Linked DNA regions of Homo sapiens: regions 1, 3 and 4 are each linked to region 2. The links come from fine-mapping of genetic effects on gene expression. A gene starts in region 2. Each other region holds a variant in brackets. All regions are shown on one strand. Distances are between the middles of the regions. Region 1 holds the start of UNKL (unk like zinc finger). Region 2 holds the start of CCDC154 (coiled-coil domain containing 154). Region 3 holds the start of CLCN7 (chloride voltage-gated channel 7). Region 4 overlaps CLCN7 (chloride voltage-gated channel 7).

The links.
Region 1: its variant is fine-mapped to the expression of CCDC154 in monocytes after R848 (Quach 2016, PIP 0.95).
Region 3: its variant is fine-mapped to the expression of CCDC154 in breast (GTEx, PIP above 0.99).
Region 4: its variant is fine-mapped to the expression of CCDC154 in whole blood (INTERVAL, PIP 0.98).

Annotation. Positions count from the first base shown.
Region 1 is chr16:1,413,791-1,421,054 of GRCh38, reverse strand. UNKL (unk like zinc finger) reads left to right here and starts at 6,351. Exons shown (of 15, transcript NM_001372107.1): 1 at 6,351-6,440; 2 at 7,000-7,209. The coding sequence starts at 6,364. UQCC4 (ubiquinol-cytochrome c reductase complex assembly factor 4) reads left to right here and starts at 308. Exons shown (of 2, transcript NM_001272051.2): 1 at 308-363; 2 at 443-1,303. The coding sequence starts at 332. The coding sequence ends at 809. RefSeq lists enhancers at 1-18, 1-161, 5,152-5,725, 5,726-6,300, 6,301-6,875 and 5 more and silencers at 5,947-6,016, 6,067-6,186, 6,727-6,776, 7,207-7,264. The variant T/AT (reference allele first, on the strand shown) is at 3,943.
Region 2 is chr16:1,440,229-1,447,492 of GRCh38, reverse strand. It overlaps CCDC154 (coiled-coil domain containing 154), which reads left to right and starts at 2,937. Exons shown (of 17, transcript NM_001143980.3): 1 at 2,937-3,177; 2 at 3,481-3,697; 3 at 3,798-3,987; 4 at 4,192-4,232; 5 at 4,518-4,613; 6 at 4,964-5,087. The coding sequence starts at 3,171. CLCN7 (chloride voltage-gated channel 7) reads left to right here. Exons shown (of 25, transcript NM_001287.6): 23 at 1-101; 24 at 407-487; 25 at 776-2,558. The coding sequence ends at 862.
Region 3 is chr16:1,471,140-1,478,403 of GRCh38, reverse strand. CLCN7 (chloride voltage-gated channel 7) reads left to right here and starts at 3,376. Exons shown (of 25, transcript NM_001287.6): 1 at 3,376-3,570. The coding sequence starts at 3,430. It also overlaps the pseudogene RPS3AP2. RefSeq lists silencers at 2,954-3,303, 3,424-3,633 and an enhancer at 2,873-3,416. The variant C/GCGCC (reference allele first, on the strand shown) is at 3,631.
Region 4 is chr16:1,462,849-1,470,112 of GRCh38, reverse strand. It overlaps CLCN7 (chloride voltage-gated channel 7), which reads left to right. Exons shown (of 25, transcript NM_001287.6): 2 at 4,775-4,846. Among named protein-coding and RNA genes, the nearest start is that of CLCN7, 8.5 kb to the left of the region's middle. The variant TTTG/G (reference allele first, on the strand shown) is at 3,187.

The DNA of each region.
Region 1 (7,264 bases), 26 kb after region 2:
GACGGTTCAGAACTGCTCCGAGGCAAACTCAGACAACTCTCTGAGGACAACGTCCGCCCCCGCGGCGCCCGCCTCTCTTCGGGGCCAGGGACCGGGGTGTCGGTCCTATTCGAAAGGGACGGAGAACTACATTTCCCGGCATGCCATCGCGCACTCCGGGCCTGCGACGGAAAGAGCTCTTCGCAGCCGAACGTCATTTCCGCTGCGCTACTGGGACCACGTTCTGTAGTCGTGAGCGGAGGCCTGGTATGGCGCCCGGTTTCCGGTTTCCGGCGACGGAAGTGACGCTATCACGGCGCGCCAAGGCGTCAGTCGAGGAGTCAAGGCAGCAATGAATCGTGTCTTGTGTGCCCCGGCGGCCGGGTGAGCTCCTCAAGGTCTCGGAGGGCCGAGGGCAGACACCGGCGGGCGGGCGGAGCGCTTACTGCTCTCTCTCTTCCAGGGCCGTCCGGGCGCTGAGGCTCATAGGCTGGGCTTCCCGAAGCCTTCATCCGTTGCCCGGTTCCCGGGATCGGGCCCACCCTGCCGCCGAGGAAGAGGACGACCCTGACCGCCCCATTGAGTTTTCCTCCAGCAAAGCCAACCCTCACCGCTGGTCGGTGGGCCATACCATGGGAAAGGGACATCAGCGGCCCTGGTGGAAGGTGCTGCCCCTCAGCTGCTTCCTCGTGGCGCTGATCATCTGGTGCTACCTGAGGGAGGAGAGCGAGGCGGACCAGTGGTTGAGACAGGTGTGGGGAGAGGTGCCAGAGCCCAGTGATCGTTCTGAGGAGCCTGAGACTCCAGCTGCCTACAGAGCGAGAACTTGACGGGGTGCCCGCTGGGGCTGGCAGGAAGGGAGCCGACAGCCGCCCTTCGGATTTGATGTCACGTTTGCCCGTGACTGTCCTGGCTATGCGTGCGTCCTCAGCACTGAAGGACTTGGCTGGTGGATGGGGCACTTGGCTATGCTGATTCGCGTGAAGGCGGAGCAGAATCTCAGCAGATCGGAAACTGCTCCTCGCCTGGCTCTTGATGTCCAAGGATTCCATCGGCAAGACTTCTCAGATCCTTGGGGAAGGTTTCAGTTGCACTGTATGCTGTTGGATTTGCCAAGTCTTTGTATAACATAATCATGTTTCCAAAGCACTTCTGGTGACACTTGTCATCCAGTGTTAGTTTGCAGGTAATTTGCTTTCTGAGATAGAATATCTGGCAGAAGTGTGAAACTGTATTGCATGCTGCGGCCTGTGCAAGGAACACTTCCACATGTGAGTTTTACACAACAACAAATGAAAATAAATTTTAATTTTATAATATGGGATTAGATGATTCCCTTTTTTTGCATCTAGTTTTTAAAAAGGGGGTATTTGGGCAGCTATTGTTTTTTATTTTAATCTCTTCTTGTTTACCAGAGCACGTAAGTTAGTTGCACCAGCAGCTATTTTTAAAAGTTTCCTTTTCCGGTCGGGCGCGGTGGCTGACGCCTGTAATCCCAGCACTTTGGGAGGCTGAGGCGGGCGGATCACGAGGTCAGGAGATCGAGACCATCCTGGCCAACACGGTGAAACCCTGTGTCTACTAAAAAATACAAAAAATTAGCCGGGCGTGGTGGCGGGCCCCTGGAGTCCCAGCTACTCCGGAGGCTGAGGCAGGAGAATGGCGTGAACCCTGGAGGCGAAGCTTGCAGTGAGTCGAGATCGCGCCACTGCACTCCAGCCTGCACGACAAAGCGAGACTCCGTCTCAAAAAAAAAAAAAAAGTTTCGTTTTCCTTTTTTTTTTTTTTTCCAGAGTGGGAACTGAGGAAAGAAACCTACATATATATTACCGAATAGTACCAGAAATGAGGAACTTTTGCAGTTTTCTGCAAAACTTTTTAAGCAAGGCAACCATTTTCTGAGTAGAATACAACTAGTGAGTATTTCTTTTCACAAATGATGGGCACTATTTTGGGTTACCTAAGTGATTGTTTTTTGTTTTTTTGTTTTGTTTTGTTTTGTTTTTATTTTTGAGACAGGGTCTCACTCTGTCTCCCAGACTGGAGTGCAGTGGCACAATTTTGGCTCACTGCAACCTCTTGTCTCCTGGGTTCAAGCAGTTCTTCTGCCTCAGCCTCCCGAGTAGCTAGAACTACAGGCTTGTGCCACCACACCCGGATAATTTTTAAATTTTCAGTAGAGACGGGCTTTTGGCATGTTGGCCAGGCTGGTCTCAAACTCCTGACTTCAAGTGATCTCTCCTCCTCGGCCTCTCACAGTGCTGGGATTACAGATGGGAGCCACCGCGCCCGGCCCCAGATTGTTTTCTCTTTTTTTTTTTGAGATTGAGTCTTGCTCTGTCACCTAGGCTAGAGTACAGTGGCTCCATCTTGGCTCACTGCAACCTCCACCTCCTGGGTTCAAGCGACTCTCCTGCCTCAGCCTCCAGGGTAGCTGGGATTACAGGCACGCACCGCCACACCCGTCTAATTTTTGTATTTTTAGTAGAGACGGGGTTTCGCCATGTTGGCCAGGCTGGTCTCAGATTCCTGACCTCAAGTGATCTGCCCGCCTTGGCCTCCCAAAGTTCTGGGATTATAGGCATGAGCCACTGCGCCCGGTCAATTGTTTTCATACATATATACCTATACATGTTTCAGAGACATGCAGCAGATCCCAAGTGCCTCCAGGGCAGCGATCTGGGAGGGCTTTTCCAGTTGCTGACCTCACACCTGTGCCGTAGACAGACCCAAGGCCAGCTGGGGATGGTGGGCGGATCTTCCCTACTCCTGGAGTTTTCAAAGGATGGCAACAGAGCAGGTTGATAGGTGAACAGTTAATTCAGTACAGTTAGTATTTATTATTATTTTTTGAGATGGAGTCTTGCTCTGTTGCCCAGGCTGGAGTGCAATGGTACAGTCTTGGCTCACTGCAACCTCCGCCTCCGGGGTTCAAGCAATTCTCCCGCCCCAGCCTCCTGAGTAGCTGGGATTACAGGCGTGCACCACCATGCCCGGCTAATTTTTCTATTTTTAGTAGAGACAGGGTTTCACCATGTTGGCCAGGCTTGAACTCCTGACCTTAGGCAATCTGCCCACCTCGGCCTCCCAAAGTGCTGGGATTACAGGCAGGAGCCACTGCGCCCAGTTGTATTTAACTATTTTTGTAGTGTGTTTGTCTTGTTTTCCCAACTGGGCTGTAGCTTTTATTTTCCCCAGGGTACATGGCACACTGACCTCCCCAGATAAGCATTTGAGAGGGAGACCATTGTAAGCATGCTAGAACAGACGCAGCTGCAGCGATTCCTAAGATGACAAATGGCTGGGCAGGAGGTGGAAATTGTTTTTTGTTTTTTTGTTTTTTTTTTGAGACGGAGTCTCGCTCTGTCACCCAGGCTTGAGTGTGGTGGCACGATCGCGGCTCACAGCAACCTCTGCCTCCCGGGTTCAAGCAATTCTCCTGCCTCAGCCTCCTGAGTAGCTGGGATTACAGGCGTGCACCACTGCGCCCAGCAATTTTTTTTTGTATTTTCAGTAGAAACGGGGTTTCACCATGTTGGCCAGGCTGGTCTTGAACTCCTGACCTCAGGTAATCCACCCACCTTGGCCTCCCAAAGTGTTAGGATTACAGGTGTGAGCCACTGCACCCAGCCGGAAATTGTTTTAAAACAAAAATTCTTGAACGGGCGCAGTGGCTCATGCCTGTAATCCCAGCACCTTGGGAGGCCGAGGCGGGCGGATCATAAGGTCAGGAGATCGAGACCATCCTGGCTAACATGGTGAAACCCCGTCTCTACTAAAAATAGAAAAAATTAGCCAGGCGTGGTGGCGGGCGCCTGTAGTCCCAGCTACTCAGGAGGCTGAGGCAGGAGAATGGCTTGAACCCGGGAGGTGGAGCTTGCAGTGAGCTGAGATCATGCCACTGCACTCCAGGCTGGGCGACAGAGTGAGACTCTGTCTCAGAAAAAAAAAAAAAAAAAAAAA[T/AT]TCTTTCAAGGAAGATGTTAACCAAACCATCTCAAAAACAAAAACAAAAAATTCTTTCAAGGAAGGTGTTAACCAAATGGTCACGTCTAAGCTGATGAACTGTCTATATAACTCAGGTACCACCCTAGACTTTAAAGAACATTTCTTCCAAAGCATGAAAAAACATGATACTTTCAATCCTTAAGTCTTACATCAGTTTCCTTTGATTTCTTCAAGGAAGATGCCCCCAGGGTGTGGAGGAACAGCAGGTGTCTTCACTCATACCTTTACAGCAAAGATCCCCAAATTCCTAAACCCTAAGGCTCCAAATCTGTTTCCTAGCTTTAGCAGGCTCCCTAGACACCTCTGCTGGACAGCTCACAGGCTCCTTAAACTCCAAAATGGAATTCATCTCCCCCAAACCTGTTTCTTCTCCCTTGCTCTGTATCCTTGCAAGCGAGAGACCTGGGCGTCACCCTAGACTCCCTTTCCATTCCTAGCACCTTGGGAGTCTTCAAGATCTGTTTATTCGTCTCTGAAGAATTTGCAGGCCCTGCCCTTCCTGCTTGACTTCATTTTCCTGCTTGACTTCACTTGAAAATATGTTCTTCATTATCATTTTAAGATTTAAATGTAATGTTTGTAGAGATAATTCATTAAGAAAATGTGATCCTGGCTGGCGCGGTAGCTCACGCCTGTAATCCCAGCACTTTGGGAGGCTGAGGCAGGTGGATCACCTGAGGTCGGGAGTTCGAGATCAGCCTAACTAATGTGGAGAAACCCCGTCTCTACGAAAAATAAATTAGCTGGGCGCGGTGGTGCATGCCTGTAATCGCAGCTACTCAGGAGGCTGAGGTAGGAGAATTCCTTGAACCTAGGAGGCGGAGGTTGCAACAGTGAGCCGAGATCGTGCCATTGCACTCCACTCTGGGCAACAAGAGCAAAACTCCTTCCTCCCCCCGCCCCCCGCCAAAAGAAAAAGAAAATGTGAACCTATGAAGAAATTTATCCTACCAGCAAATGATAGTTTTTGTTGTTTTACAGTATTAATATTAAAAAAAACCCTGAGATACTTGGAACAAATCTGTAGGAAGTGATTTGCTTTCAACCTAAATGGGCCCATTTTTCTTTTCGTTTTTTTTTTTTTTTTTTTTTTTTTTTTTTGAGACGGAGTCTCGCTCTGTTGCCCAGGCTGGAGTGCAGTGGCGCGATCTCGGCTCACTGCAAGCTCCGCCTCCTGGGTTCAAGTGATTCTCCTGCCTTAGCCTCCTGAGTAGCTGGGACTACAGGTGCCCACCACCACGCCCGGGTAATTTTTTTTTTTTTTTTTGTATTTTTAGTAGAGACGGGGTTTCACCGTGTTAGCCAGGATGGTCTCGATCTTCTGACCTCGTGATCCGCCCACCTCGGCCTCTCAAAGTGCAGGGATTATAGGCGTGAGCCACCGCGCCCGGCCAATGGGCACATTTTTCATATCACTAAAAATTTCTTTTTTATTTTTTGAGACAGGGTGTTACTCTGTCACCCAGGCTGGAGTGCAGTGGCGCAATCTCGGCTCACTACTAAACCTCCGCCTCCCGGGTTCACGCCATTCTCCTGCCTCAGCCTCCGGAGTAGCAGGAATTACAGGCGCAAGCCACCACACCCCACTAATATTTTTGTATGTTTAGTAGAGACGGGGTTTCACTGTTGGCCAAGCTGTTGTCAAACTCCCGAACTCAGCTGATCCGCCGGCCTCGGCCTCCCAAAGTGCTGGGATTACAGGCGTGAGACACCGCGCCCGGCCTCCTACCACTAAAAATTCTTCGGAAGCACTGTTTCAAATCACGCAGAGCACTTAGAGTTTTCCCTTTTCTCAGCTACTGCGCTGTTGGGGGAAGGGGGACCTCAAGTGTTTGCAAAATAACTGTGATAATTACCTTTGTAGATAAATCTCTGAGTATAAGTTTTTGAGGTCAAGGTTCGAAATGGAACAAATTCCTTTCTACAAAGGCCAGGACCCCTTGGCCCTTCCGCCCGGTGCCTGGCTCCCCCTGACATCAGCCTCTTGGTTCGTTTGTGGAAGAGCAGCTCTATTGAGATACAACTCTTGTGATTAATTCATGTAAAATACACGGTTATGTCGGGTCATGTCACAGCAGGGGCGACCATCGCGGGTCCCACGCGCGGCCCCGGGCAGGACCAGCGTCCCGGGCCGGGGGCTGCAGGGCAGGGCAGGGCAGGGCAGGGCAGGGCAGGGCAGGGCAGGGCAGGGCGGGGCGCGGGGCTGGGGCGGGGTCTGCGGGCCGGGGGCGGGGCTGCGGGGGGCGCGGGGCTGGGGCGGGGCCGGGGTCTGCGGGCTGGGGGCGGGGCCGCGGGGGGCGTGGCCGCGGGGGCGCGCGGGGATATCCGGGGGCGGGGGCGCCGGCGCGGCGCATGCGCGCTGCATTGTTTTGACTGAAAATGCCGTCGGTTTCGAAAGCGGCGGCAGCGGCGCTGAGCGGGTCCCCCCCGCAGACTGAGAAGCCGACCCACTACAGGTCAGCGCCCGTCCGGCCTGCGGCCCCCCGCCCGCGCCCGGTGCAGCTCGGAGCCTCCCGCCGGGGCTCGCGCCGCCTCCGCCGCCCCCGCGCCCCCCGGCCTCCGCGCAGCGCCTGGGCTGGGGGGGCCACGACCCTCTGCTCTCGGCGGCCTCCGCCTGAGGTCGGAGCGCGGCGCCCATGGTCTGGGATGGCACCTGGTTCCGGGGTCCACGCGCCTCTGGGGAGGGAGGAACGCCCCGGGGTTGGGGGTTGCGCCTGGGCTCGGGGACCGGGACCCTCTGCTCCGGCTGCCGACCGTGAGGTCACAGCGGGTCGCCCAGGGTCCGGGGTGGCGCTTGGGCTTGGGGACCAGGGTCAGCGCCTGGGCTACGAGGTCGGGTGAGGGTCGCGTCTGGAGTCGGGATGGGGGTGGGCGCAGCGCCTGGGGCCCGCCGGGAATGTGAGTACGGGTCGACCCTGGGTTGAGGCTCCTGAGGCCGGTGGGTCCCGCCGCCCACGAGTCCGAGTCCCTGGAGGTGCTGCCGGAAGCGAGCCGCGGCGCTGTCTGTGTTTGTAGGTACCTGAAGGAGTTCAGGACGGAGCAGTGCCCCCTGTTTTCACAGCACAAGTGCGCGCAGCACCGGCCGTTCACCTGCTTCCACTGGCACTTCCTCAACCAGCGGCGCCGCAGGCCCCTCCGCAGGCGCGACGGCACCTTCAACTACAGCCCCGACGTGTACTGCTCCAAGTACAACGAAGCCACCGGCGTGTGCCCCGACGGCGACGAGTAAGCGGCCGCGAGGGGGCGCCGCTGCCTGGGCGGAGGTGGGGGGCCTCCACCC
Region 2 (7,264 bases):
GCTTCCCACCCATCCAGTCCATCCACGTGTCCCAGGACGAGCGGGAGTGCACCATGGACCTCTCCGAGTTCATGAACCCCTCCCCCTACACGGTGCCCCAGGCATGTGCAGGGCATGGGCATGGGCGTGGGGCCTGGGACTGAACAGCAGGGGGTGGGGTCCAGAGCCTCGGGGAGGGGCAGCCGGGGGGGGCCACAGCGGAGAGGACTCGGTGACTCTGTCTCCTGTGAAGGGCCTGGCAGGCTTTAGAGCTGAAGTCAAGGGGCTGAGGGGGCTGGCCAGACGGGCGTGGGGGCTCAGGACGTGCCTGGACGCCGTGGTGGGGGGTGCAGGGAGCCAGCTTGGGTGAGGGTCCCGCCTGCCTCTGCTGTGTGGGCGGGCACTGACAGCTGTGCCCCTGCTGCAGGAGGCGTCGCTCCCACGGGTGTTCAAGCTGTTCCGGGCCCTGGGCCTGCGGCACCTGGTGGTGGTGGACAACCGCAATCAGGTGAGCGGGGGCGGTGGGGGTGCAGGCATGCCGTGCAGGGCTCCCCTCTGCCTCCTGCCCGTGCTTACTCTCAGCTCCCGGCAGGGGACACGGAAGCACAGGACCCAGCACCGAGTCGGCCCATGCCCCATGGCTGCACCCCTCCCCAGCCCCGTGCTCAGCTCGGGGGCTGTGCTGAAGCCCCCAGGGCCCCCTGCCTGTGCTGCCCCAGCCACACACAAGGCAGGGAGCTCCACAGGCAGGCGGGAGCCGACCCGTGTGTCACTGTGGCCTGGACTTGTCCTGCAGGTTGTCGGGTTGGTGACCAGGAAGGACCTCGCCAGGTACCGCCTGGGAAAGAGAGGCTTGGAGGAGCTCTCGCTGGCCCAGACGTGAGGCCCAGCCCTGCCCATAATGGGCACTGGCGCTGGCACCCCGGCCCTTCTGCATTTCCTCCCGGAGTCACTGGTTTCTCGGCCCAAACCATGCTCCCCAGCAGTGGCAATGGCGAGCACCCTGCAGCTGGGCGGGCAGGCGGCAGGCGCGGAACTGACCCTCTCGCGGGACTGACCCTGTTGTGGGCAGTGGTCTCCCCCCTTGGCGCCTCCTTGCGCAGGCCCAGCCTCCACTCTCCTCGTCTAGGTTTCTTTACCTCCAGGGATCAGCTGTGTGTGTGTGACCTCCCTACCGGGCTATCGGCCTCTTGGGAGCCAGCGGCAGGGCCGGCACCTGCGTGCCTGTGCCCGTGTGCGTGAGACAGAGCCCTTGCCCCTGCTGCTGCCCCGAGGGCTGCCCTGCCCTGGAAGGGCCCCTCTGCCTCCACACCAGTGGAGTCTTCGAGACTTGGGAGCTGCTTGGCCTCATTTTCAGCCATGAGCAGACGGCCTGTGGTCCCTGGGCCTGAGGCACGGACTCGTAGCACCAGGGTTTGGAGGCTGCGACCGCCCCGGAGAGCAGCTTCACACTGGCGCCACAGAGGAGCCCCACGTGCACTCCCCGGCCTGCATCCGGCTTGGGTACACAGGCCCAGAGGACTGGGGTGACTCACGGGCCCTGTGCTGTGATGTTGAGAGCTGAGAAAAACCTCCAAGGCCCTGAGCCCCATGCCCAGCCCTGCCTTGGTCCCCCAACCCCCAGAGCTTGGAGTCTGGGCCCCACACCCAGCCCTGCCTTGGTCCCTGAGCCTCAGAGCGTGGAATTGCTGCCCTGTGGACACTGGCTGGGAAGGCAGGTCTTCCCCTAGCACATGGGGACCCCGGCCTCGAGGGTGACCTCCCTACCCCGCCCCTGCCAGCCACCAAGCGCAGGTGCAGCGGGGGCCAGACTCCTGCCGGCCTCAGAGGACACCTGGCCCAGCACAGGCAGCTAGAAGGGCCGGTGGGCACCGGGGCCGGGAAGCCCCCACCTCACCACCTGAGGGCCCCTGGGAGGCTCCTCTGGCCTGGCTGGGCTGGGTCTGGGGCCGCCACAGGCCCCTCACGGGGCGGCAGAGGCAACTTCAGTGTCCCTGTTAGAGCAACACGGGTCCCTCCGTGGGGGGCTGGGTGCGGCCCCCTGCCGTGTATTTCCTCCCCAGGGAGTGGGGCCTCCCCGGGAGCTGACGCCACCACCCTGCTTAGCCCTCACAGGGCCCCAAGGTGTCCGAGTGTGTTGGGTCTGAACGCGAAATAAAGAAATCCTCTCAGCCCGCCTTTGCCAGCGTCGTCCCTCCCACCCCACCCAGACCACGTCCAACAGCCTGGGACTTTCGGGACCCTGGGGTCGGGGCACCGTGTGGAGTGAGAAAGGCGTGAAAGACAGCGGCTGCGGCCACCCAGGGCACCAGCCACATCCTCTTCCTCGTCCCCGCCCCTCAGCCTCCCTCCTCTGGCTCCTGGCTGGTGGGTCTGGGGGCAAGGCAGAGGCGCTCCAGGTGGAGGGGGGCGGGCCGGGGTGCCCACGCTGGGGTGACGCAAGAAGAAAACTCCCGGGCCTCAGAGTCGGCGCCGGAAACCTAGGTCTGGGTTTCCCTCGTGGTGGTTGTGTACTGAGGACCTGGAAGTGATCATATTTTGGATATATTCGGTTAAATAAAATCAGCGGTTAGGATTCACATCGCTGCTTCTTGCCTTTTAATGGGGCTGCTGAGCAAGATGGGTTCCCGTGGAGCCCGGCTGTGCCCCTCACCCCGATGGCGCTGCCCAGGCCTCGGGCTCCGCTCGGACGTGGGCCTGGCTGTGTCCGGGGTGTCCTGGGGCTCTCGGCCTCCCTGCTCCCAGCGTCCCTCCCGGCGTGCCCAGGCCTCGTCAGGGCCTCCTTCCCCTCCCTCGGCAGCTGAAGAAGTCCCCTTTGCCAGAGGACACGTGTCTGCGCCCTCTCGGGAGTGGGGCCCCTCAGATCCATCCAGAAGCAGGCAGTTGGGGGGCCCTGCGGGAGTGGGAGAGCTGAGGGCTAGAGTTCCATTGGCAGTTGGGCTGTGAAGCCGTGAGGTTCTGGGGAGAGAAGGAAGGTTCTGGAACGGCCCCGCTGCCCCACACCTGCCTCCCTGGGGACCCTGAGAAGGCAGCCAGACGAGGGCAGCAGCTCGTCCCTCAAGGCCCAGAGCTCTCACGGGACTTCCTCTGGCTCCTGACCCCCCTGGCCTGTGCCCAGCTCTGGGCAACCTCAGAGGCCCCAAGGCCCAAGCTACAGCCGAGGGCAGGGTGGCCGGTGCAGCCCAGCAGCCATGTCAGGTGACCAGAGCGGAGGAGCGGGGCCCAGGGAGGGGCTTGCCACAGGTGTGAGGGTGGGGACCGCTCTGCTTCTGACCCCGGGCTCCCTCCAGCTCGCTTGTTCCTGCCGCCCAGTGCTGTGTGTCTTCAGGCAGGGCCCTGGACTTGTCTGAGCCAAGCCCGTCTGGATCCTGTGTGACCCAAGGAGACGCGTTGAGCTCTGGGTGGTGGGCGAGGGTCCTGCGGGGGTTTGGGGCCTTGTTCCCGTAAGCTCCAGTGGGGGCCGGGCCCCAAGGGGCAAGCTCCCAAGATGCCTCCTTGTAGAGTTGGCTGACAGTGGACCCTCAGGGGCATCGGCCCCTTCCCAGCTGAGAGCCGTCACCCTGGAAGACCTGGGGCTCCTCCTGGCAGGAGGCCTGGCCAGCCCCGAGCCCTTGAGCCTGGAGGAGCTCTCGGAGAGGTATGAGTCCAGCCATCCGACATCCACGGCCTCTGTCCCCGAGCAGGACACCGCCAAGCACTGGAACCAGCTGGAGCAGTGGTGAGCCCTGCAGGGGGTGCTGGCGGGGGAGGACCACGTCGCCGCCGCCTCCGCCTCCACGGCGGGCACCGCCAGACTCGCCCACTCTCGCCCCGGCCAGGGTGGTGGAGCTGCAGGCCGAGGTGGCCTGCCTGCGGGAGCACAAGCAGCGCTGTGAGCGCGCCACGCGGAGCCTGCTGCGGGAGCTGCTCCAGGTGCGGGCCCGCGTGCAGCTGCAGGGCTCAGAGCTGAGGCAGTTGCAGCAGGAGGCGCGGCCGGCAGCCCAGGCCCCCGAAAAGGAGGCGCCGGAGGTGAGCGGCTCCCCCACCCACAGGTCGAGCTGCCCCTTTCCTGGGTGTTGGGGGCAGCTGCTTCTGGGCCTGGAGCCCAGCTCACCCCTGCTGCCCAGGCCCAGAGCTCCCAGGGGCCAGTGGTGCCGGAGCTGGGTGGACTCCAGGGGCAGGTGCCAGACCCGGGCCTAGGTCCAGCCCACAGCCTCCTCTTCCTCCTCGCAGTTCTCTGGTCTCCAGAACCAGATGCAGGCCCTGGACAAAAGGTACCCCCCACACACCTAGGGGCACAGGCCCAGGGCGGGGAGGTGGTGGCGAGAAAGCAGCGGCAGGTGTGGTGGGGGGTCCACATCTCCCGCTGGGTGTCGCTGGAGTGGGGGATACACATCCAGGTCCAGCTAGAAAAGGCCGGGTTTGTACGTGCCTGGGCGGCCTTCAGAGGCCCAGGAAAGCCATGGGAGGTGGCCACAGGGGCCCCTTGGCCAGACCCCCAGCCCGCCGAGGCTGCTCAGCCCGCCTGGGCCTCTCGGGAATGGCTTGTTGTGTCCCAGGCTGGTGGAGGTCCGGGAAGCCTTGACCCGGCTCAGGAGGAGGCAGGTGCAACAGGAGGCGGAGAGAAGGGGCGCCGAGCAAGAGGCCGGCCTCAGGTGGGCGCCCACCGCCCGTGGCTGGCTCCGGAGCTTGCGTGGGGTCATTTGAGAGTCCCTGGCTGAGCCAAGACACGGGTCCCCCTGCCGTGTGTCCCCAGTAACCCGGCGGGGCACCGCCCTCGGTGCCAAGCGTGCTGGGAAGCCTGGGCCCGCTGCGGACCCTCTGTGGGGAAGAGACTCGCAGCAGCCCTTCCCTGCCACCGGTGCTGTGTTTCCCATTCCTCTGTTTTCTGGTGGGGCAGGGGGCGGGGGTCGTACACCTCCTGCCTGGCCAGCCTGTGGGTCAGCCTCACCCTGCTGGGCCCTCCGGCCAGCTGGGCTGGTGTGACCACAGCCGACTTCTCTAGACTGGCCAAGCTGACCGACTTGCTGCAGCAGGAGGAGCAGGGCCGGGAGGTGGCCTGCGGCGCCCTGCAGAAGAACCAAGAGGACAGCAGCCGGAGGGTGGACCTGGAGGTGGCCAGAATGCAGGTACCACCAGGCCCAGGCTTCAGGGGGGCCGCCCAGAGGGCCGAGGAGGAGACCCTAACCCTCTCGGCCTGTGCCATCCGATACAGCGGCCGTTCACCATGTATCTGTGTCCACTGAAATCAGCTATAGTTGTAGACAATGTAAAACTCAATTCCTCAGCCGCACATGCCCCATTTCAAAAGTTCAGGTTGTTTGGGCACGGTGGCTCACGCCTGTAATCCCAGCACTTTGGGAGGCTGAGGCGGGCAGATCACAAGGTCAGGAGTTCAAGACCAGCCTGGCCAACATGGTGAAACCCCATCTCTACTAAAAATACAAAAAACTAGCCAGGTGTGGTGGCGGGCACCTGTAGCCTCAGCTACTGAGGAGGCTGAGGCAGGAGGATTGCTTGAATCCAGCAGGAGGAGGTCACAGTGAGCTGAGATCGCGCCACTCCAGCCTGGTGACAGAGTGAGACTCCATTTCAAAAAACAAAACAAAACAAAAAAACAAAAGCTCAGGCCACGTGCAGTGGCACACGCCTGTAAATCCCAGCACTTTTGGGAGGCCGAGGCGGGAGGATCGCTTGAGCCTGGGAAGTCAAGACCAGCCTGGGCAACACAGCGAGACCTCATCTCAAAAAAAAGCTCAGTTGCCACGTGGGGCCGGCAGCTGCAGATCTGGGCGCTCTTCGTCCCAGGAAGCTGCCTGTGTCCTGCCGCCTCCACCCCTCCCCACACAGCCAGCGCCTGCCCGGGTCCACAGATCGCAGCCCCGAAGCCCCTTCCACGGCCACTCTCGGGCTCCACCTTTCCCTGCACACAAAGCGGAGTTCACCTTCCTCGAGGACACGAGTTCCTAGAAGCCAGGGTCCCACCCACGGGGCTGGAGTGGCTCCCCCTCCTGCTGTGGCCTCAGCAGGGGCCTCCGCTGTGGGTGGGGAGGGAACGGGCAGCTGCACATTTCAGCAGCCCGGGTCTGAGCTCCACAAATAGAGACCGGGGACTGCAGCCAGCTCCCGTGCGCATCAGGCAGTACGCTGGGTGAGGGGCCAGGACTGCCGGGGCACCCAGCTGCCACCCACATAGCTCCACTGCCCGGAGCCGGCAGCCTCCCTCTCACTGCCCTTCAGGAAGTTACTGAGTGGCCGTGTGGAGCAGGCAGGGGTGCTGGGCTGAGGATTCCCAAGGTGCCAGGTGTGGGGGAGCTGCCGCTCATGAGGGCGTCTGCCTTTCCCTGAGTCCGGGTGTCTGAGTGCTCTCTAGGGCCAGAGGCAGCAAAGCCAGGCCGACACTCGTTTTTTGTTTTGAGACAGGGTATTGCCTGGTTGTTCAGGCTGGAGCGTGGTGGTGCCATCACAGCTCACTGCAGCCTCAACCCCCCAGGCTCAAGTGATCCTCTTGCCTTAGCCTTCCCAGTAGCTGTGACTGCGGGCGCATGCCACCATGCCTGGCTAATTTTTTTTTTTTTTTTTTTAAGACGGAGTCTCCCTCTGTTGCCTGGGCTGGAGTGCAGTGGCACGATCTCGGCTCACTACAAGCTCCGCCTCCCACGTTCACACCATTCTCCTGCCTCAGCTTCCCGAGTAGCTGGGACTACAGGCGCCCACCACCACGCCCGGCTAATTTTTTTGTATTTTTAGTAGAGATGGGGTTTCACTGTGTTAGCTAGGATGGTCTCGATCTCCTGACCTCGTGATCTGCCCATCTCGGCCTCCCAAAGTGCTGGGATTACAGGCGTGAGCCACTGCGCCCAGCCCGCCTGGCTAATTTTTTGATGTTTTGTAGAGACGGGGTCTCACTGTGTTGCCCAGGCCAGTCTCAAACTCCTGGGCTCAAGTGATCCTCCTGCCTCAGCCTCCCAAAAAGTTTTCTTTTCTTTTCTCTTTTCCTTTCTTTTCTTTTTTCTCTTCTCTTCTCTTCTCTTCTCTTTTCTGTTCTCTTCTCTTCTCTTCTCTTCCCTTCTCTTTTCTTTTCTGAGATGGAGTCTCGCTCTGTTGCCCAGGCTGGAGTGCAGTGGCGTGATCTCAGCTTACTACAAGCCCCACCTCCCGGGTTCACACCATTCTCCTACCTCAGCCTCCCAAGGAGCTGGGACTACAGGCACGCATCACCATGCCCAGCTAAATTTTTTGTATTTTTAGCAGAGACAGGATTTCACCGTGTTAGCCAGGATAGTCTTGATCTCCTGACCTCATG
Region 3 (7,264 bases), 31 kb before region 2:
CCTGGATAGACTGGGGAACCTTCTCTGTGTCTCTCCCAGTGCTGTCTAGCATCAATTCATGGGCCACTTCTTTCGAGTAATTTGTCTGCACCTCTTGGGCCATGATTTCCACCATCTTTTCTGGATTTGACGGGCCTGCCAGTGCTGCCTGTGAGAGGTCTTCCCAATCTGCTTGCTGCACTGTTTTAGTAAAAGCAGCACAGAACAGATGAGGCAAATGATCATCTGTAGTTTTGACAACCATATGAGCTTCAATCATGGTCTTTTTTTTTTTCCATGAAAGCTGGTCAGGCTGTTTTTGCACTGAACATCCTCAGTGATTAGCTTGAATTTTCCAGATGCAACTTCACCATTCTGCAGATGAGCAGTACTGACTTCAAAAACACGGCCCTTGAGGCCATCGGGTGTGATTTTGGTTCCTGACGTCCCTGTGCCTGGTGTTTTCCATACTCCTTATGCCAAGCACAGCTGGTGCTTTCGCCTCATGCCAGTCTCTCTCAGACAGTGGACCAACCTCTTTCTTCTTGGCTCCCTTCCTGCCACTTCGGTTAAGGTGCTCGTTCTTGCCTGCTGCATGGTGGTGCAGACAGCCAAGGGCCAGATGTTAACATTGCCATTTTCCCTCCCTCTCAGAAGGCTGCTACTCATTATGATTATTGTCAGGTTTTGAATTGTCCGAGTGTAAGCTGCAGACATAGCAACACAAGGTCCCAAGTATTTCAGTATGTATCTCCTAAGATCGGGGAGCTTTCCTGACGTAACCACAATATAATGATCACGCGTGGGAGATTTACTACTGCTCCAACACCGTTAGCTCATACAGTGTATGTCCAATCTTTGCCAATTGTCTCAACCATGCCAGACCCACGTGAGGTTGTCTCCTCAGCCTCTCTTTGTCTCTTTCACAATACTGACATTGTGGAAGAAGATGGCCTAGATGTTCAGCAGGCTGTCCCTCAAAGTGGGATTATCTGGTGTTTCCCCTTTATGAGTGGACTCAAGGTGAGCATGTTTTGCAGGAATGCTCCGGAAGGGACGTTGTGTCCTTCCTGGTGCATCACATCAGGAGGCACACGATGCCACCTTATCCCATCACCAGCAATGCTGAACTGGGTTGCTTGGTTCAGGTGGCGCCTGCTAGGTTTCTTTTTTCCCTTCACCGTTAAGAAATGCTGACCCTGGGCCGGGCACGGTGCCTCATTCCTGTAATCCCCGCACTTTGGGAGGCCAAGGTGGGTGGATCACCTGAGGTCAGGAGTTCAAGACATGCCTGGCCAACGTGGAGAAATCCCATCTTTACTAAAAATACAAAAATTAGGCCTGGCGCCATGACTCATGCCTGTAATCCCAGCACTTTGGGAGGCCAAGGCAGGCGGATCACAAGGTCAGGAGATTGAGACCATCCTGGCTAACACGGTGAAACCCCGGGTCTACTAAAAATACAAAAAATTAGCCGGGCGTGGTGGCGGGCGCCTGTAGTCCCAGCTACTTGGGAGGCTGAGGCAGGAGAATGGCGTGAACCCGGGAGGCGGAGCTTGCAGTGAGCCAAGATCACGCCATTGCACTCCAGCCTGGGCAACAGAGCGACACTCTGTCTCAAAAAAAACCAAAAGGAAACAAAAAAAAGAAAAATTAGCCAGGTGTGGTGGCGGGTGCCTGTAATCTCAGCTACTCGGGAGGCTGAGGCAGAAGAATCATTTGAACCCAGGAGGCGGAGGTTGCAGTGATCCAAGATAGCGCCATTGCACTACAGCTTGGGTGACAAGAGTGAAACTCCGTCTCAAAAAAAAAAAAAAAAAAGAAGGAAAAAGAAAAAAGAAATGCCAACCATGGCCGGGCATGGTGGCTCATACGAAGAGTCCTAGCAACTCAGGAGGCTGAGGAAGGAGGATCCCTTGAACCCAAGAGGTCAAGGCTGCAGTGAGCTATGATCTTGTCATTGTACTTCAGCCTGGGTGACAAAGTGAGACTGTGTCTCAAAAATAAAAAAATAATAATAATAATTTAAAAAAAGGCCGGGCACCGTGACTCACGCCTGTAATCTCAGCACTTTGGGAGGCCGAGGCGGGTGGATCACGAGGTCAGGAGATCGAGACCATCCTGGCTAACACAGTGAAACCCCATCTGTACTAAAAATACAAAAAATTAGCCGGCCATGGTGACGGGCGCCTGTAGTCCCGGCTACTCGGGAGGCTGAGGCATGAACCCGGGAGGCAGTGAGCCGAGATTGGGCCACTGCACTCCAACCTGGGCGACAGAGTGAGACTCCGTCTCAATAATAAAAATATCGACCTTTTAAAAGGAAGAGGATGAGGCACAAAATATAAAGAGTTTACTCTAGAGGCTAACGTGGAAGGATCACTTGAGGTCAGAAGTTTGAGAACAGCCTGGGCAACACACTGTGAGCTCCACAGCAAAAATTAGCCGGGTGTGGTGGTGCAGGCCTGTGGTCCCTGTTACTCCAGAGGCTGAGGCGGGAGGATGGCTTGAGTCCAGGAGGTCAAGGCTGCACTGAGCTGTGACCGCACCACCGCACTCCAGCCTGGGCGACAGAAGGAGACCCTGTCTCAAAATAAATAAATAAATGACCCAGAAGGTGGGGACAGGGTGGGGGCTGATGTAAAGCTGTCAAGAATTCTCTTTGGTTTATGGAAATACCATTGATTAGTGATGGGCTGTGCCCTGGTGCGGGTACAGGGTCCGGGCGGCTATTTGGCTAATTCACAGCTATCTGCGTAGTAGCCGGCAGTTTCCAGAGGCGACCCTCCTGTACTGTCTCTGGGGCCTGATCGTTGAAGAGGACTCGCCTTCTGTTCTTTTCTCATTAGGCGGGAGGACCCTCTGGGGCTGCCTGGAGGAAGCCTCCACTCCGACCCTCGCCCGAGTGCCTACTGCGAGGGCGGATGCATGCTTCGGGACTTCTAATTTCATCCTTCACGTCTTTAGCCGCCGCCTATGGCAAGGAAAGGCCTGCCCTCGCCCCTGCCTCCCTCCTCCCTTCCCCACCGCGGCTCCGTCACGATCGGCGCGGGCGACCGGGCCTGGGGGAGCCCCTCCAGCCGGCTCCTGCCCTCAGGCCCCGGGCGCTTCCCTCGCCCCGACTCCCGGGCCCGAGGTCCCGGGGGCGGCCATTCGCCTCCCAAGCACTCGGCGCTCAGCCCAACGGGGCCGCCTTTGCAGTCGCGTGGGCAGAACGGGGTCCTCAGGGCCGCGGCGATTCTCTAGGGCGGGCGGCGCCACGACCCGCCGGGAGCGCGGCTCCCAGGAGCCCCCGCGCGACCGGGCCTCGGTGGTTGCCGTTGCAGGTCACATGGTCGCCGTCGCTCATCACGTGGCCCCGTCGCGCGTCACGTGGCCGCCGGCGCGGGTCACGAGAACAAACACGGGGGCAGCCGGCGCTTCCCGGCCGGTGTCGCTCCGCGGCGGGCCATGGCCAACGTCTCTAAGAAGGTGTCCTGGTCCGGCCGGGACCGGGACGACGAGGAGGCGGCGCCGCTGCTGCGGAGGACGGCGCGGCCCGGCGGGGGGACGCCGCTGCTGAACGGGGCTGGGCCTGGGGCTGCGCGCCAGGTGAGGCCGGGCAGGGCGCAGGCGGGGAAACTGAGCCCTCGTGCGCCCCGCAGCCCGCGC[C/GCGCC]CTCGTGAGCCTTCTGGCGGCGCCGCGTGTCTCGGTCCTGGAGGCGACCGAGGCGCGGTGGACTCGGGAACGCGCCCCGGGGCTCCTCGGCGGGGCCGGGCTGGCGGGGGCGCCTGGGGTCTGGAGTCTTCGGAGGCCGCGCCGGGCTCGGTGGCCGGGAGGGCTGCGTGGGCGAGGCGGAGCTCGCCAGACCCCGCGGAATGTGGGGCGCTGAGGGGCGCCGGGGCAGCCGTGGCGCACGTTCATTCCCTCCGGTGTCCCCCAGACTGGCCCTAAAGGGGTGCAAGTGGCTTTCTGTTCAGGTGACTTTTAAAAATTGTCATCCTACACGAGCAACTAATTTTGTTTGCGTTTTTGACCCCCTGGGAGATGGAAACAGTTAAGATTGCAGCCGGGTCACTGTCTTTCAGTGAGAATGACTGAGCGCCTTTATCTGCCATCTTTCTGTGTGGGGATCAGTCCCGACTTTCAGGTGATCTTGGGAGTGACGAGTATTTGTACTCAGTCTCCCTTCGCACCGAGTTGAATTTGCAATGTGCAGGCAAACACAATAAGCAGCAAGTCAGAGGTTGGAATGCGTTCCGCATGTCACCCTGCAGCGTGCGTCTGAGCAGTGTTAAGGTCTGGAGAACCGTTGCGGGTACATTTGTTTCCCTGTCTGTGTATTGTCTTAATATTTTTTTTTTTTTGAGACGGAGTTTCACTGTAGTTGCCCAGGCTGGAGTGCAATGGCGCGATCTCGGCTCACTGCAACCCCCACCTCCCGAGTTTAAGTGACTCTCCTGCCTCAGCCTCCTGAGTAGCTGGAATTACAGGCGTGCGCCACCGCGCCCGGCTAATTTTGTATTTTTAGTAGAGACGGGGTTCCTCCGTGTTGGTCAGGCTGGCCTCGAACTCCCGACCTCACGTGATCCCCCGCACCTCAGCCTCCCAAAGTGCTGGGATTACAGGCGTGAGCCACTGCGCCTGGCCGTATTGTGTTACTTTTGAGTTAATGGACCGTTTTGTTGATGGGTCTTAATCTGCTTTGCAGTTATTCTTTACATTTTCTCTTGTCTAGTCCTTTAAACACTTGTCTTGTGCTTAAAGATTAGGAAGGACGGCAGGGCACGGTGGCTCACATCTGTAATCCCAGCACTTTGGGAGGCCGAGGCGGGTGGATCATGAGGTCAGGAGATTGAGACCATCCTGGCTAATATGGTGAAACCCCGTCTCTACTAAAAATACAAAAAATTAGCCAGGCGTGGTGGCGGGCGCCTGTAGTCCCAGCTACTCGGGAGGCTGAGGCAGGAGAATCAATTGAACCCGGGAGGCGGAGCTTACAGTGAGCGGAGATGGCGCTACTGCACTCCAGCCTGGGCAGAGCGAGACTCCGTCTCAAAAAAAAAAAAAAAAAAAAAAAAGTTTAGGAAGGACACGAAAATCAGCCTGTTTCCATAGAACCTACATTTAGGTTTTCCCAATTCCTTAGAAACGCACCAGACAAAGAAGGTCATAGTCTGCCTTTTGCTGATAAGAAGCAGCAGCTCAGCTCCCTTTGAAGTGGGCCCTCCTGCTCTCCGTGCTGTAGTCTGCATGAAAAGTGATCTGAAGGGGTTAATTTGAAGTGATGGGGCCATGGGTGATTAGTTATTTGTGTGTATGCCTGTGTGTGTATGTGTATGCCTCTGTGTGTGTGTGTGTGTGTTTCTGTTTTAAAAGAAAGGCCAGGTGTGGTGGCTCATGCCTGTAATCCTAGCACTTTGGGAGGCCAAGGTAGGGGAGGATCACTTGAGCCCAGAAGTTCAAGACCAGCCTGGGCAAAATAGTGAAACCCTGTCTCAAAAAAAAAAAAACAAAATTAGCCAGGTGTGGTGATATGCATCTGTAGTCCCAGCTACTGGCTCGGGAGGCTGAGGCAGAGGAGTCGCATGAGCCCAGGAGGTTGAAGCTGCAGTGAGGTGCTTTTTTTTTTTTTTTTCCGAGGTAGTTTGTCACTCTTTTGCCCAGGCTGGAGTTTGAGAACCTATCTCAAAAAATTTAAAAAAAATTTTTTTAATTAAAGAAATCTGAAGTTCACAAGGTAGAAGGAATAAACCCAACTTTAAGGGCTGAAAGGTAAAGATTAGGAACCTTGATGGAGGTTGAATTTGAGTTTCTCTTGGGACTGAATGTGCTTGGGGTTTCCTGTCTGTCTTTGCAAATAGAAGAGTTGATTTTTTGGGAAATAATCTGTTGATCTCTTAACCTTAGAAAGTATTCCCGGCTGTGCACGGTGGCTCATGCCTGTAATCCCAGCACTTTGGGAGGCCGAGGCAGGTGGATCACCTGAGGTCAGGAGTTCGAGACCAGCCTGGCCAACATGGTGAAACCCCATGTCTACTAAAAATAGAAAAATTAGCCGAGTATAGTGGTGAGCGCCTGTAATCCTAGCTAGTCAGGAGGCTGAGGCAGGAGAATCGCTTGAACCCAGGAGGCAGAGGTTGCACTGAGCCGAGATCACGCCATTGCCTGGGCAACAAGAACAAAACTCCATCTCAAAAATAAAAATAAAAAAACTATTCCCTTAAAAGTCATTGTAAGCTTATTTGTTTGTTTGCATTTAATAACAGCGGATACTCTGCTTACAAGCAATTTAAAAAATAGTTTATCGTGCACTTGCTCTGTGGCTGCCTGGGACGCAGGCGCATAAAGCTGCTTCCTTCCTGCTGGAGACAGGCCCAGTGCCCTGTGCGGATGGTCTGCAGGGCCCCTGGGGCAGGAGCAGTCACAAGGCTTGGGCTTGAAGAGCACAAGATCTTCAGGCAGGCGGACGGGGGGAAAGGACAGAGGGAGTGTGTGTTTGGGATGCGCTGTGGAGCCTGGAGGTCAGCCCTGCTGCGCACATGAACAGGCTTTGAATTTGGCTCATCTCTAGGGGAGCCCATGGGAAGCTAGGACCCCATTCCTGAAGGGCCCCAGCCTTCCCCTGCAGACAGACTGGAGAGGCGGAGTCTAGAGGCCAAGACACCACCTCTTAGGCCAGGCGTTTGTGCTCTGAGCATCGGACTCGCCGATGGCCTCCTGCAAGGCCTGTAGCCTCCCTGTTGCCCAGTTTTCCCGTCTGCGAAAAAGTTAACGCATGCATAGCGCTGAGCACGGTGCCTGTCACAAACTACGCTCTGAAGAAACGTGAGTCGTGCCCGGTCGTGTTAAAACCAGCAACACAAGAGGGATTCGTGTTCGTTGTGACTTTCCTGTCCAACTTCCTGAGTAGCTACTGGATTTCTTGGTGCTGCTTTTCTGGGGGAGGGTCTGCTCTGACTGGTGGGCACAGCTCACAGTTAGGCTCAGGCGCACCCCAGTGTGGCCACAGACGGGGTACTGTAAGCTGCCCTTGGGTTCAAGGCCTCCAGAGCTGTTTTGAGCTAAAATATCAACCCAGGCCATCCCCTGCTGACGGGACTGTTCCAGTGAACATGAGAACTGGTCCTAGCTGCCTCCAGGCTCTTTAGGGTTTGTTGCAGGATTTTCAGGTTGGCTGGTGGTGTCGTTGCCACCTCAGCGTGGGCACAGCTGGCCAAACACTATGAGGTGGCTGCCCTGGGCAGGGCAGACTGTGGAGTGGCTTGTTGGAGGCTGGGTGCCCGCTGAAAGCCCAGGCCCTTCAGAGCTG
Region 4 (7,264 bases), 23 kb before region 2:
TAGTGTTACACAACCCATTCCTTGCCAAACTGAAACTGCACCCATTCAACGCTCTCCCTTCCTCCTGCTGCCCAGCCCCCTCGTTGCCATCTGCCTCAGGGGACCTGACGGCTCCAGGGCCCTCTTGCGAGTGGACCTGCGGGAGCTGTCTTTTTCTGACTGGCTTATTTCACGGGGCACAGTGTCCTCCGGCCCGTCGTGCTGCAGCACGGGTCGGTGGTCATTCCTCTTTATGGCTGAATTATTCCATTGCGGGGAGAGGCTGCATTTCCTTGACTCACTCATCCATCGGCACAGCAGGTGCTTCCGCATTTTGGTCATTGTGAACGGTGCTGCTGTGAACATGGCGTGCAAGTGGGACTTTCAGACGCTGCTTTTTTATGTTTGTTTTTGGTTTTTGGTTTTTTGTTTATTTTTGTTTTTGTTTTTGACGGAGTCTCCCTCTGTCGCCCAGGCTGAAGGGCAGTGGTGTGATCTCAGCTTACCACGACCTCTGCCTATTGGGTTCAAGTGATTCTCCTGCCTCAGCCTCCTGAGTAGCTGGGATTACAGGCGCCCACCACCATGCCCGGCTAATTTTTGTATTTTTAGGAGAGTTGGGGTTTCGCCACATTGGTCAGGCTGGTCTTGAACTCCTGACCTCAAGTGATCAGCCCGCCTCAGCCTCCCAAAGTGCTGGGATGACAGACGTGAGCCACCTCCCCTGACCCTGAGTTTTTTTATGTATTCTGAATATTAATCCCTTATCAGATATTAATTCCTTATCACATTTGCAAATATTTTCTCGTTTCATAGGTTACCTTTTGCTCTGTTGTTTTCTTTGATGTGTAGAAGTTTTAAAGTTTGATGTAGTTCCCCTCTATACATTATTTTGACTTTTATTTTGTTTTATTTTATTTATTTATTTGAGACAGGGTCTTGCTCTGTTGCCCAGGCTGGAATACAGTGGCAGGATCTCGGCTCACTGCAACCTCCACCTCCCGGGTTCAAGCAGTTCTCCTGCCTTAGCCTCCCGAGTAGCTGGGATTACAGGTGTGCACCACCATGCCCGGCTAATTTTTTTTTTTTTTTTTCGTTTTTTTTAAGTAGAGACGGGGTTGCTTCATGTTGGCCAGGCTGGTCTCGAACTCCTGACCTCGGGTGATCTGCCCGCCTTGGCCTCCGAAAGCGCTGGGATTACAGGCGTGAGCCACTGTGCCCAGCCCTTTTTTGACTTTTAAATCACTCTGGATTCACAGGAAGCAGCAAAGGTAGCACAGGGGGCTTGTGTACCCTTCACCGAGTTTCCCCCCAATGTTTACCTTTCCGTAACAGCGCAGCCCCAAAACCAAGAGAGTGTCGGTGCAATGCGTGTAGATCCGCGTAAGCACCAGGAAGGGGGTGCAGGCTATTTTCAGACCCATCTTTCTAGTCCCACCCACTCCCAACCCTGATGACCTCGCCTCCCGTCCGGCCCGAGTCTCGCCTCTCGGGAGTGTTGGCTCACGTGTTCCTGAGCCTGTCTGTTTTTAGTTAGTGTCCGGCGCTTGGGACCGTGTAGGTTGCCGTGTGTGGCAGGAGTTTGAGGAACAGCATCTAGTGTTTAATTTATAAGAGCTTGCATTTAAAAAAGAAAGTAACCGCACGGAATGCATTGCTGAACTTGAAGTAAACGTCGTGTTCTTCCATTACGAAAGCCACCTTCTCAAAGTCCTGGCAGAGTTAAGGAAAGAGATGCTGGGAAGGCAAGGCGCCGGAGCCCCATCCTTTCACTCCGGGCAGGGGCAGCTGATGCCCTGCTGGGGGGCAACCCCTCACCCCTCACCCCTCTCGGATCTGCCAAGGCGGCGGCGGTGGGGGTGGCCCGCTGGTCACATACTGCACCGGCAGCCTTCACCTTGGCCTGAATGCATGTGCGGCTCTGCCTGCTGCTGTGGGACAGTGCTGTCGTGGTGTAGACGGTGGCCCTCCTCAAGGCCTCCCAGGCCTGGCGCCCAGGACATGTGACTGTGGCTGTTTTCGTTTTGTTTGGGTTTTTTTTTTTAATTTTAGAGATAGGGTCTTGCCGTGTTGCCCAGGCTGGAGCGCAGTGGTGCAACCATAGCTCACTGTAGCCTCGACTTCCCAGGCTCAAGCGATCCTCTTGCCTCAGCCTCCTGAGTAGTTTGGGCCACAGGTACACGCCACCATGCCTTGCTGATTTTGATTTTTTGTAGAGACAGGGTCTCACTACGTTGTCCAGGTTGGCTTTGAACTCCTGGGCTCAAGCGATCCTCCTGCCTGAGCCTCCCAAAGTGCTGGGATTACAGGCGTGAGCCACCACGTCCGGCCAGAATGATCCGTTATTTCCAGCAAGGAATAGCCTGAGAAGCACGGCAGGCCTTGAGTGGCGTTAGAGAGAAGTGCTGACATCTTGAGTGATGGAGAGGGTGGCCCTCTGGGCAGGGTGTGTCCCACAGGGTGCCTGTTTGGACGTGGGGTCCTTCCTCATGGTGAAATGGGTCTTTTGGGTTCCGTGGTCTCTGTTTGGGGCATCGGGGCACCTGTCCACCTGGGAGGTGGGGGTCAGAGGCCCAGCGCTGGTCCCAGGGCTGTTTTCTGGTGGTGAGACCTGGAGTCCAGGGGCTTTGATGTGAGTGTGAGCAAGAGGGAGTGGGCAGCTGGCCAGGCCACTGCTTCCATCATGCCTGGACCGTGGCACCTTCCTCCTCCCACCGTCAGCCCGTGTGGCAGGAGACTCAAGCTGTGAGTTTCGCCTGTGACTGAGGGCTCAGGGAGAGCCACTGGCATGTGGCAAGGCTGGGGGAAGAGGAGGGGCAGGCGCCCTGTGACTCAGGGTTGTGTCCAGCAGGACCTGTGCACTCTAGCCCCTCCCACACTCTCCCCTGGGCGTGGAGATGCCACGGCAGACACCTGCGAGTCTGTCTGTCTGTCTGTCTGGCCTCTGCTCCTGGCTTTTGATGGGGATGGCCTGAGAGTGCTCTTTGCCTGGGGAGAGGAGGAGGCTCTGACTGGTGTCTGCCAAGGGCCAGTGGCACGTGCCCAGGTTCCTTCCCCTGCCAGGGCCACTTACCGGGTCATCAACACGGGGGGTGTACAGCAAGGGCGACGGTGGCTGGTAACAGGACGATGGTTGGGGAAGGGGTCCCTGGAGGGCAGTGGGCTGGAAGGTCAGGTTCTTTTTTTTTTTTTTTTTTTTTTTTTTTT[TTTG/G]AGACAGAGTCTTGCTGTTACCTAGGCTGGAGTGCAGTGGTGCGATCTCAGCTCACTGCAGACTCCACCTCCCGGCTTCAAGCGATTCTCCCGCCTTAGCCTCCCAAGTAGCCCGCCTACTTTTTGTATTTTTAGTAGAGATGGGGTTTCGCCATGTTGGCCCAGCTGGTCTCGAACTCCTGGCCTCAAGTGATTTGCCCGCCTCAGCCTCTGAAAGTGCTGGGATTACAGGCATGAGCCACTGTACCCCGCCGGGAAGGTCTGGTTCTGAAGGCAGTTTCTGGGATGGCGGTTTGGGGAGCCCGTCTCCTTCAGGGGTGAGCACTCCAGAGAAAGCAGGACCCCCACCCCTGGCTCGCAGTGACCTCAGATCCCAAACCTTCCTTCTCTGCTTCTGTGTCCTTGCCTGTGTGTGGTAATCGTGATCCCCGTGGATAGGTGGAGGTTGAGGGAAAACTGGGCCCCAGTGCAGGCCGTTCCTGCACGTCTCCCCGTCCCCACCTCGGCCCTGTGGGCTCCTGGCGCCATCACCTGCCGTTCTATCACCAAGAAGCACTTCCAGGCCCTGCTGAAACCTGGTGCGGGAGGCCGAGCCTGAGGAAGGTGGAGGGAGAGATGGGGGGATGAGGAGGGGACGGCGTTGGGGGCCGGGAGGGCTGCTCCCAGGGAAGGCGGGCGGCAGCCTCGTTGGTCTTCCCACGGCCGGTACCAGCCGCTGGACTCCTCCGCCAACACTTTCCTGACAGGCGCACGGGCTCTCTGATGCAGATGGCGGGCGCCCTGCGCATGCGGTCCCTCCACCTGGAAGGCAGCCCTTCTTCCCTTCATGTCCCCAGATGTTGCTAAAGATTCAGGAGATAGTGGAAATTGGAGTCGTCTCCAAAGGATCTCTTTGGGGAAAGGAGGCTGAGGTCTTGGCTCCTCCTAGCCTGGCCTCAGCGCCTTGGCTCTAGTAAGGAGCCGGAGACTGGGGTGGGAGCTCCGTAAGTCACATCTGCACCACGCCACCCAGGGCCCGCTGCCCTGCCCCTGCCCTGAGCTGGGGCGGCCGCAAAGCCTTAGGTGGCTGAGACCCCACCCAGCTCTGCCTGACAGCTGGGCGTCCTGTGGGGAGGGCAGCGTGAACACTGTGGAGCCGTTTGTGTCTCAAGACCCAGAGAGGCTGCAGTGGAGGTGACTCTGTGGAGGTGGCAGGTGGCTGAGCAGGGCCTCGGGAGCAGGGTTGGGCAGGATGGCCCAGGGTGCTGTGGCGGGCACTGCATTGGGGGCGGCGTGTTGTCCAGCCCTTCTTTCCTGGTGGGTGGCAGGTGCCTCGCTTTCAGTCTAGAGCAGGGAGCTTGCGCCCTGGACTCGGGCTGGACGTGTCGCTGACAGGCCGAGGGGCAGCCGGATCAGTTCTGCTTCCAGGGCCCAGGGAGGCCCGTCCCAGCCCTGCTGCCCCCACCCAGCAGGCAGGCCTGGCCTAGCCCATTCCTGAGCTCCCGGGCAGGGTCAGGCGAGGCCAGGGTGCGGCGGCGGGAGTGAGAATCCACGGAGCAGAGCGTGCGACGCCTGAGCGCCCTCATGATTTCTCTTCTGCTTTTAGTCACCACGTTCTGCGCTTTTCCGAGTCGGACATATGAGCAGCGTGGAGCTGGATGATGAACTTTTGGACCCGGTGAGTTGGGGGTGTTCCCCGTCCTCCCGCAGAGCTAGCTGCATCTTAGCAGAGGGTGACAGGGATGGGCACGGGCCGAGCGGCAGGGAGATAGTGGGGCCCCAGGGCCGGGGTTCAGGGAAGATTTCCTTGGGGGGACATGGTCCCTGACGCCAAGTGAGCAGAGGCAGCTGGGCAGAAGTGCTCTCAGACGGAGGAGTGCAGGGCGCAGGAAGCCGGTCAGGACAGCAGTGACAGCATGGGCAGCGAGGGGGCTGGACCTGGCTTTGGGACAGGGCAAGGACAGGGATCTTGGGGGGGCAGTGAGGAGCCCCAGGAGAGTGAGAGGGGGCCGGATGCCTCTGACTTCAGAGGGCAGGGGTTTAGATGTTCCCGTGCCAGTGGCTGCCCTGGGAGTCCTGAGCTCAGCGGCAGCGTGCTCGTCTTCCTTCCCCTCGGGGGCATCTCCCGCCGGCCTCGGTTTTTCCCCCAGCCGCTGGTGAGGCCGGGAGTCCTCTGCTGCCGCTGGCCGTTCACTCATCGTCTCTGGGTAGATGTCTGTGCGGGACTCCTGTTGAGATGATCCTGATGTTGGCAACACCCCGGGCGTCCTCCTTCTCCCCATCAGGCCCCACCTGGCTCTGCCCTGGGCCACGTCAGAGGCTGAGGCATCTCACAGTCCACCTGTCCGGGTGCTCTTCGGCCTTGCGTCCGTTTGAGCTCTGCCGCAGTCGCTCCCGAGGCCGGCGCCGTGCTCAGATGCCGTCCTGTACAGCCAGCAGCGCCTCTTCCGGGGCTGCCCTTCTGATACGTTTGTGCTGCCTCTGGAGCCACAAGGCCTTCGGAAGATCTGTTTCGTGGCCGTGGGCGCCTTCGGCACTGCCTTTTTGGACTTCAAAGCCTTTGCTCTGGTGTCAGCTTTGGGAGGGGCAGGAGTTGGGAGAGAAGGGAAAAAGCCAGCACGTGAGATTCAGCAATCAGTCCTCTCCTGTCTCAACCCTGGAGCGGGTGCCTGGCCGGCCACACGCGTGTTGGTTATGCTCATTTTTAAACTGGGTTTGTTGTCTTTATAATTGAGCTGCAGGAGTTCTTTATACATAGATGCAAATCTCTCATCCAATACATGATTTATAGAAGTTTTCTCCCGTTCAGTGGGTTTTCTGTTCACTTTCTCAGTGGTGTCTTTTGTTGCTCAAATTTATTTAATTAAAAAAGTTTTGGCCAAGGGAGGTGATTCGTGCCTGTAATCCTAGTACTTTGGGAAGCAGATGGATTCATTGAGCTCAGGAGTTCAAGATCAGCCTGATCAACATGGTGAAACCCTGTCTCTACAAAAAATATAAATATTAGCTGGGCCTGGTGATAGGCACCAGTAGTCCCAGCTACTTGGGAGGCTGAGGTTGGAGGATCACTTGAGCCCAGGAGGTGGAGGTTTCAGTGAGCTGAGATGGTGCCACTGCACTTCAGCCTGGGTGACAGAGTGAGATCCTGCCTCAAATTTTTTTTTTTTTTTCTGGGCAGGTGTGGTGGTTCACACCTGTAATCCCAACACTTTGGGAAACCAAGGCTGCAGCCCAGGATTTGGAGATCAGCCTAGACAACACAGTGAGACCCTGTCTCTACAAAAAACAAAAACAAAAACGAAAATTAGCCAGGTGTGGTGGTGTGCGCCTGTGGTCCCAGCTACTCAGGACGCTGAGGCAGGTGGATTGATCGAACCCAGGAGGTTGAGGCTGCAGTGAGCCATGATCACACCATTGTACTTCAGCCTGCGTGACAGACGGGACCCTGTCTAAAAAAATTAATTATTACTATTCTTTGAGATGAGGTCTCACTGTGTGGCCCAGGCTGAACTCCATCTCTCAGGCTCAAGCAATCCTCCCGTTTCAGCTTCTTCCTGAGGAGCTGGGACCACAGGTGCATCACACCCCGCACAGGTTGTATTGCTGAGGTTCAGCTAATCTGTTTTTTCTTGTGTTGCTTGTACTTTTGGTGTCAAATCTAAGAAACCATTGCCTCACCCAAGAGTATGACGACTGACCCGTTTTTTCCTAAGAATTTTACAGTTTTAGGTCTTTCATCCCTTTTGAGTTAATTTTTGGATGTGGTGTGAGGTAAGGGTCCAACGTCATACCCTCCCTCTCTCTCTCTCTTTTTTTGAGACAGGGTCTCACTGTCACCCAGGCTGGAGTGCAGTGGTGCAATCATGGTTCACTGCAGCCTCTGCCTCCTGTCTGTCTCCCAAGTAGCTGGGACTCAGGCGCATGTCACCATACTCAGCTAATATTTTGTAGAGATGGAGTCTTACTATGTTGCCCAGGCTGATCACAAACTCCTGGCCTCAAGCAGTCCTTCTGCCTCTGCCTCCCAGAGTGCTGGGATTATAGCTGTCAGCCATTGCGCCCGGCCCAGCTTCATTTTTGCATGTGGAAATCCAGT